Linked DNA regions of Homo sapiens: regions 2 and 3 are each linked to region 1. The links come from fine-mapping of genetic effects on gene expression. A gene starts in region 1. Each other region holds a variant in brackets. All regions are shown on one strand. Distances are between the middles of the regions. Region 1 holds the start of AARS1 (alanyl-tRNA synthetase 1). Region 2 has its middle 31 kb from the start of CLEC18C. Region 3 overlaps DDX19A-DT (DDX19A divergent transcript).

Region 1 (2,756 bases):
ATACACAGTTTAAAAATCAAATGAAATAAGCATGTGAAATGTTTGATGCAATGCCTCACGTATAAATACATACATATTTTTCAGACAGGGCCTCGCTCTGTCGCCCAAGGAATGCAGTGTCACGATCAGGGCTCACTGCAGCCTCAACTTCCTAGGCTCAAGTGATCCTCCCACTTCAACCTCCCAAGTAGCTGGGACTACAAGCATGCGCCACTATGCCTGGCTAATTTTTATTTTTTATTTTTTTTTTTGAGACGGAGTCTTGCTCCGTAGCCAGGCTGGAGTGCAGTGGCGCCATCTCGGCTCACCGCAACTTCCGCCTCCCGAGGTCAAGGGATTCCCTTGCCTCAGCCTCCCGAGTGGCTGGGACTACAGATGCGCGCCCGGCTAATTTTGTGTTTTTAGTAGAGACGGGGTTTCACCATGTTGGCCAGGATGCTCTCGGTCTCCTGACCTCGTCATCCGTTGGCCTCAGCCTCCCAAAGTGCTAGGATTACAGGTGTGGGCCACCGCGCCCGGCCTTTTAAAAAATTTTTCGTAGAGACAGGGTCTAGTTATGTTGACCAGGCTGGTCTCCAACTCCTGGGTTCAGGTGATCTTCCCACCTTGGCCTCCCAAAGTGTTGCAATTATAGGCGTGAGCCACCGCACCTGGCATGTATATATGTATATGTATATATATATATTCACCCTCCTCCCCCAGGCCTATAAATATTAACTTTTTTTTTTCCAAAGGCAAATCGAGGACCAGATGCTGATCCAATCGTACCTGAACTACTGATGTTATTTCTTCCACACCAAATTCAAGGTCTCCCCCGGACAAGTGTAACCATGGGCACAATGTCAGACTCTTTGAGGGCTGTGTATCACTCAGCAACTAAAATAAACAACTATAGCAAGATATGTAACCTCTACCAAACACGTTACCGTCTCCCCTTTTTAACTATGTCAATTGTGGTGTTAGGACTTTGCCTATGGAAACCAAAATGTCGACCTCCGGGAGCCGGGGGCGGGGGGGGGCGGGGGGGGCGGGGGGGGGTCTAACTCGATCATGTGACGCACCCCATCCCACCTTTTCTCGCAGTTGCATCAGCCAAGTTAGAGCCGCCTTCCCAGGAATCCACTAATGAACGGATTCGTCCTCAGTTTGACTGGCATGTTGGTTGACCAATAATATCTCATGAGGTAAGGCGCGGCGGGGCACTTTCCGTCGGCGCGCTCTGATTGGACGGAGCGTGGCGGGTTGTGGTAGGTCGTGGTCTGAGGCCGGTACAGCTGCGCGTCTGCGGGAATAGGTGCAGCGGGCCCTTGGCGGGGGACTCTGAGGGAGGAGCTGGGGACGGCGACCCTAGGAGAGGTAGGCCGCCCTCGGAGAGCTCTGCGGTGCTAGGAGAGCGGCTGGGCCCGCAGACTGGGGGGAAAGCTCCGCAGCCGCAGTGGGCCCCAGGATCAGGCCCCGCGTGGCCTGGAGAAGCCCAGTCTGGGCTGGAGCGGGAGCTGGACAGTGTGGCCTTGCGTTCGCCCCCGGGAGCGCTGCGAGTGTCGCGGCCTCGGGTGGATTTGCTGAGCACCAATACCTCACGGTTGCCAACCTGGGGTTTTAGCTCCCTTGGTTTTAATCCCCTAGGGGCGGGTGGGGGCACGGGAGGAAGGATGGGCCAGCTGGGTGCAATCCTGCTGTAAGCCAGCCATTCCTTGATTTCTTAAAATTAACTAAACAGCTGATGCCGGTCCAGGCGCACCGAGACCGTCATCTTAAGCTGTTCTGTAAAACAGTTTGTATTTCTCGGTGTGCTTTGAAGCATGTGAGTTAATTCCGAACTTGGTGTTAAAGGATTAGTATACCTGATCACGAAATACGTATTTAGCAGCCACTGTACTAGATGCTGAGGATGTGCTGTAATAGCCCAGGGCCAGGCGCGGAGGCTCACGCCTGTAATCCCAGCGCTTTGGGAGGTCGAGGCGGGCGGATCACCTGAGGTCAGGGGTTCGAGACTAGCCTGGCCAACATGGTGAAACCCCGTCTTTACTAAAAATACAAAAATTAGCCGAGCGTGGCGGCGCGCGCCTGTACTCTCAGCCACTCCGGAGGCTGAGGCATGAGAATCGCTTGAACCCGGCAGGCGGAGGTTGCAGTGAGCTGAGATCACACCATTGCACTCCAGCCTGGGTGACAGAGGGAGACTCCGTTTCAAAAAAAAAAAAAAAAAAAGAGCCCAGAACAGTCGTTGCTGCTGGGATGGAACTGACAGCCTGATGGGGGAGGCGCACATTAAACAATCCATGAAGCGCGTATGGAAATTATGAAGGGAAACACTTGAGGCTGTGAGACAGTAAAAGAGGGGGAGCCTTATCAAGAAGGGGAAGGCGGCCGGGCGCGGTGGCTCACGCCTGTAATCCCAGCACTTGGGGAGGCCGAGGTGGGCAGATCACGAGGTCAGGAGATTGAGACCATCCTGGCTAACACGGTGAAACCCCATCTCTACCAAATATACAAAAATAGCCGGGCGTGGTGACTGGCGCCCGTAGTCCCAGTAGTCCCAGCTACTCGGGAGGCTGAGGCAGGAGAATGGCGTGAACCCGGGAGGCGGAGCTTGCAGTGAGCTGAGATCGCGCCACTGCACTCCAGCCTGCGCAACAGAGCGAGACTCCGTCTCAAAAAAAAAAAAAAAAAAAAAAGAAGAAGGGGAAGGCTGTCTTAAATAAGTGTCTTGGCCGGGCGCGGTAGCTCACCCCTGTAATCCCAGCACTTTGGGA
Region 2 (2,756 bases), 85 kb after region 1:
TTTTTTTTTTTTTTTTTTTTTTAATTTTCTTTTTATTGATAATTCTTGGGTGTTTCTCACAGAGGGGGATTTGGCAGGGTCATGGGACAATAGTGGAGGGAAGGTCAGCAGATAAACAAGTGAACAAAGGTCTCTGGTTTTCCTAGGCAGAGGACCCTGCGGCCTTCCGCAGTGTTTGTGTCCCTGATTACTTGAGATTAGGGATTGGTGATGACTCTTAACGAGCATGCTGCCTTCAAGCATCTGTTTAACAAAGCACATCTTGCACCGCCCTTAATCCATTTAACCCTGAGTGGACACAGCACATGTTTCAGAGAGCACAGGGTTGGGGGTAAGGTCACAGATCAACAGGATCCCAAGGCAGAAGAATTTTTCTTAGTGCAGAACAAAATGAAAAGTCTCCCATGTCTACTTCTTTCTACACAGACACGGCAACCATCCGATTTCTCAATCTTTTCCCCACCTTTCCCGCCTTTCTATTCCACAAAGCCGCCATTGTCATCCTGGCCCGTTCTCAATGAGCTGTTGGGCACACCTCCCAGACGGGGTGGTGGCCAGGCAGGGGGGCTCCTCACTTCCCAGTAGGGGCGGCCGGGCAGAGGCACCCCTCACCTCCCGGACGGGGCGGCTGGCCGGGCGGGGGGGGCTGACCCCCCCCACCTCCCTCCTGGACGGGGCGGCTGGCCGGGCAGAGGGGCTCCTCACTTCCCAATAGGGGCGGCCGGGCAGAGGCACCCCTCACCTCCCAGACGGGGCAGCTGGCCGGGCAGGGGGCTGACCCCCCCACCTCCCTCCCAGACTGGGCAGCTGGCCGGGCAAAGGGGCTCCTCACTTCCCAGTAGGGGCAGCCGGGCAGAGGCGCCCCTCACCTCCCAGACGGGGCAGCTGGCCGGGCGGAGGGCTGACCCCCCCACCTCCCTCCCGGACGGGGCGGCTGGCCGGGCAGAGGGGCTCCTCACTTCCCAGTAGGGGCAGCCGGGCAGAGGCGCCCCTCACCTCCCAGACGGGGCAGCTGGCCGGGTGGAGGGCTGACCCCCCCACCTCCCTCCCGGACGGGGCGGCTGGCCAGGCTGAGGGGCTCCTCACTTCCCAGTAGGGGTGGCCGGGCAGAGGTGCCCCTCACCTCC[C/T]GGACGGGGCGGCTGGCCGGGCGGGGGGCTGACCCCCGACCTCCCTCCCGGATGGGGCAGCTGGCCAGGCAGGGGCTGACCACCCCCACCTCCCTCCCGGACGGGGTGGCTGCCGGGCAGAGACGCTCCTCACTTCCCAGATGGGGTGGCTGCCGGGCGGAGAGGCTCCTCACTTCTCAGACGGGGCAGCTGCCGGGCGGAGGGCCTCCTCACTTCTCAGACGGGGTGGTTGCCAGGCAGAGGGTCTCCTCACTTCTCAGACGGGGCGGCTGGGCAGAGACGCTCCTCACCTCCCAGACGGGGTCTCGGCCGGGCAGAGGCACTCCTCACATCCCAGATGGGGCGGCGGGGCAGAGGCGCTCCCCACATCTCAGACGATGGGCAGCCGGGCAGAGACGCTCCTCACTTCCTAGATGTGATGGCGGCTGGGAAGAGGCGCTCCTCACTTCCTAGATGGGATGGCTGCCGGGCGCAGACGCTCCTCACTTTCCAGACTGGGCAGCCAGGCAGAGAGGCTCCTCACATCCCAGACGATGGGCGGCCAGGCAGAGACGCTCCTCACTTCCCAGACGGGGTGGCGGCCGGGCAGAGGCTGCAATCTCGGCACCGTGGGAGGCCAAGGCAGGCGGCTGGGAGGTGTAGGTTGTAGCGAGCCGCGATCACGCCACTGCACTCCAGTCTGGGCACCATTGAGCACTGAGTGAACGAGACTCCGTCTGCAATCCTGGCACCTCGGGAGGCCAAGGCTGGCGGATCACTCGCGGTTAGGGGCTGGAGACCGGCCCGGCCAACACAGCGAAACCCCGTCTCCACCAAGACCAGTCAGGTGTGGCGGCGCGTGCCTGCAATCGCAGGCACTCGGCAGGCTGAGGCAGGAGAATCAGGCACGGAGGTTGCAGTGAGCCGAGATGGCAGCAGTACAGTCCAGCTTCGGCTCCGCATGAGAGGGAGACCGTGGGGAGAGTGAGAGGGAGAGTGAGAGGGAGAGGGAGAGGGAGAGGGAGAGGGAGAGGGAGACGGAGAGGGAGAGGGAGAGGGAGAGGGAGAGGGAGAGGGAGAGGGAGAGGGAGAGGGAGAGGGAGACGGAGAGGGAGAGGGAGAGGGAGACGGAGAGGGAGAGGGAGAGGCCCCCTTACATTTTTGCACGCAAGGCAAGTGCTTCACTGGAGTGTCTTCTTATTCCCCTTCCACCCTCTCCTCTTCCACCCTCCGTGGATGATAATCTCAAGACTCCTCCCTTAGCTACTCAGGAGGCCGAGGCAGAAAAATGACTGAAACCCAAGAGGCAGAGGTTGAGTAAGCTGAGAACAGGTCATTGCACTCAAGCCTGGGCAATAAGAAGAAATCTGTGGGTGGAACAAAAGAAAAAAATCAAAAAACAAAACAAAACCCACACTCCAAAAACAAACTAACAAAGAATAAATAAATAATATAAAAATAAAATAAATACTGCAGTCCTTATGTTATTGCTTTGTTTCAATATCTGGTATGATTGCCTGAGGGACCTGAGGTTTTTAATTGTAGGGTTTTTTTTTAGTCTTTAGAAGTGGTTGGTTATGTAAAATATTATTATTATTTTTTGAGACTGGGTTTTGCTCTGTCACCCAGGCTGGAGTGCAGTGGCTCGAT
Region 3 (2,756 bases), 49 kb before region 1:
AGGAGAGGTCTGCCAAGAAGACTGAAGTGGTAGAGAGAAGACCAGGAAGCAAAGTGTGCGTCACTTTCCTCCCCAGAAGAGTGGCCAGAGAAAGAGACTGTTGATAGAGTTAAATGCTGCTGAGAAGGCAAATATAACAGGGATTAAAATGTAGCTTTTAAGCTGAGTGTGGTTGCATGCATCTGTAGCCACAGCTACTAGGGAGGCTGAGGCAGGAGGATCACTTGAGCTTGGAGTTCAAGGCTGCAGTAAGCTGTGACTATGCCACTGCACTCCAGCCTGGGCAACAAAGTGAGACCCCCCCCATCTAAAAAAAAAGTGGTTTTCAGATTTCGGACCTGTAAGTCATCAGTGTCTTTCATGAAGGCTATTTCAGGGGAGTGATGGAGCAAAAGTCAAGACTGCAGAGGGATGAGGAATGAGACTCTGCATACAAGCAACCTTACAAGACTTTCTGCCATTAGGAGACAGGCTGAAAGATGAGGAATAGAGGGTTGAATTGTAAAGAGCGGTCAAGTATGAACATGTTAAAATATCAATGAGAAAGAGCTGATGGGGTGGGAGAGGTAGCAAATATAAGGGGATAGTTGACAGAGCAAGTTCTTAAAAGCCAGGAGAGGGAAGTTGGTGGATTGGCAGAAAAATGTACATATTTACATATATATATATATATATATATATATATATATATTTTTTTTTTTTTTTTAAGGCAGGGTCTCATTTTGTTACCCAAGCTGGAGTGCAATGGTGCAGTCATGGCTTACTGCAGCCTCAAACTCCTGGGATCAAGTGATCCTCCTGCCTCAGCCTCCAAAGTAGCTGGGACTACAGGCATGAGCCACCATGCCTGGCTAATTTTTAATTTTTTTTTGTAAAGATGAGGTCTCCCTGTGTCGCCCAGGCTGGTGTCAGACTCCTGGGCTCAAGGGATCCTCCTGCCTTGGCCTCCCGAGGTTGCTGAGATTAGGTGTGAGTAATTTCACTCAGCTGAGAAATTTAGATAACAGGGATACATGTCTCATTGGAACAGGAGGGAGAGGGAAGGACCGGTGCTCATGGAGGAAGTTCTGGTGGCAGAAGGTTGAGGGAGTTTCTGTATGTTAGCCATTTTCTTAGAGTAAGGAGCTTATTTGCTGACACCTGAGGGGGATGATAGGGTTGGAATTATGAGGTGAGTGAAAGTCTTGAAATAGTCAGTGAAGTGTGGGGGAGTTAAGCAGAACGGTCCATGAGACTAGAGGTACTGCACCTTTTTCTGAAGTTGTCCCTTCCATTGATGTTAAATATAAAGTCAGAGTTTTTCGAAGGTAGGGAAAGTTAAAAAAAAATCAAATGAATAAAATATTTAATTTGTTCCTCTGGCATAATCCTACTTGCTATAGAAATTAACAAACCTGGCCAGGCATGGTGGCTCACACTTGTAATCCCAGCACTTTGGGAGGCCGAGGTGAGTTGCTCGCTTGAGGCCAGGAGTTCGAGACCGGTCTGGCCAACATGGTGAAACCCCGTCCCTACTAAAAATACAAAAATTAGCCGTGTATGGTGGCTCACGCCTATACACGGCAGGCGGATCACCTGAGGTCAGAAGTTCAAGACCTTGGCCAACATGGTGAAACCCCATCTCTACTAAAAATACAAAAATTACCC[G/A]GGCATGGTGGCACCTGTGGTCCAGTAACTCAGGAGGCTGAGGCACAAGAATTGCTTGAGCCTGGGAGGCAGAGGTTGCAGAGAGCTGAGATGGCGCCACTGCACTACAGCCTGGGCAACAGAGCAAGACTCCATCTCAACAACAAGAAAAATATAAAGTGCTTGACACCAAACTTGAGATATTTCAAGAAAACTTCAACCAGTATGACCATGAGCACCTCCACCACGCCGGTTCAGAATGACTGTAGAGCTCAGCCATGGGCAATCCCAATGCACAGAATGTTAAACTTTACAACATTAGTCTTGTTAAAACAAAAATACCCAAATACCAGCAATCAAAAACATGCTGCTGTTTCTCCTACCTTCTTTTTCAGGAGATGGGGTCTTGCTCTGTTGCCCAGGTTGGAGTGCAGTGGCATGGATCATGTCTCACTGCAGCCTCAACCCCCCAGGCTCAGGCGATCCTCCCACCTCAGTCTCCTGGGTAGCTGGGACTATAGGCATGCGTCAGCATACTTGGCTAATTTTTTTATAATTTTTTATTTTTTATAGATGGGGTCTCACTATGTTGCCCAGGCTGTTCTCAAACCCTTGGCCTCGAGCAGTCCATCTGCCCTAGCCTCTCAAAGTGCTGGGATTACAGGAGTGAGCCACTGTGCCTGGCTTAATTTTCTTTTTTAAACTTTTTAAGAAACAAGATATCGCTGTTTGCCCAGAATGATCTGGAACTCCTGGCTTCCAGTGATCCTCCTGCCTCAGCCTCCCAAGTAGCTGGGATTATAGGCGTGACACTCTGCACCCAGCTCTTTCCTTCTTATACTCATTAATGATTTCTTGGTAATATGAAAACTTCATAATTAAAGTTCAATTAACCTGAATTATTATTAATTAATCTTCATGTTAATCCTCAATTCAGGTTAATCTTCAATTAAAAGAATATATCAACAATTAGTTCTTATGCATACAGCCAATGAATGACACTCAAGAAAAATAATAAAATGCATTATTTATAGATAATGAATATATCCAGAATTTTCCATTGGGCCAAACATTCCTTTTCCCAAGTTTCTCTGTTCTAGAGCAGTTTATCATTTCTTTTTTCTTTTTTT

Evidence for each region. PIP is the estimated chance that this variant, and not a neighbour inherited with it, causes the effect.
Region 2: its variant is fine-mapped to the expression of AARS1 in cerebellum (GTEx, PIP 0.98).
Region 3: its variant is fine-mapped to the expression of AARS1 in whole blood (INTERVAL, PIP 0.98).

Annotation. Positions count from the first base shown.
Region 1 is chr16:70,288,021-70,290,776 of GRCh38, reverse strand. It overlaps AARS1 (alanyl-tRNA synthetase 1), which reads left to right and starts at 1,271. Exons shown (of 21, transcript NM_001605.3): 1 at 1,271-1,356. It also overlaps a transcript of DDX19B not described here. RefSeq lists a silencer at 1,926-2,055.
Region 2 is chr16:70,203,229-70,205,984 of GRCh38, reverse strand. No RefSeq gene overlaps it. Among named protein-coding and RNA genes, the nearest start is that of CLEC18C, 31 kb to the right of the region's middle. RefSeq lists a silencer at 1,608-1,773. The variant C/T (reference allele first, on the strand shown) is at 1,128.
Region 3 is chr16:70,337,328-70,340,083 of GRCh38, reverse strand. The region is part of intron 2 of DDX19A-DT (DDX19A divergent transcript); the gene reads left to right. Among named protein-coding and RNA genes, the nearest start is that of DDX19A-DT, 8.0 kb to the left of the region's middle. The variant G/A (reference allele first, on the strand shown) is at 1,648.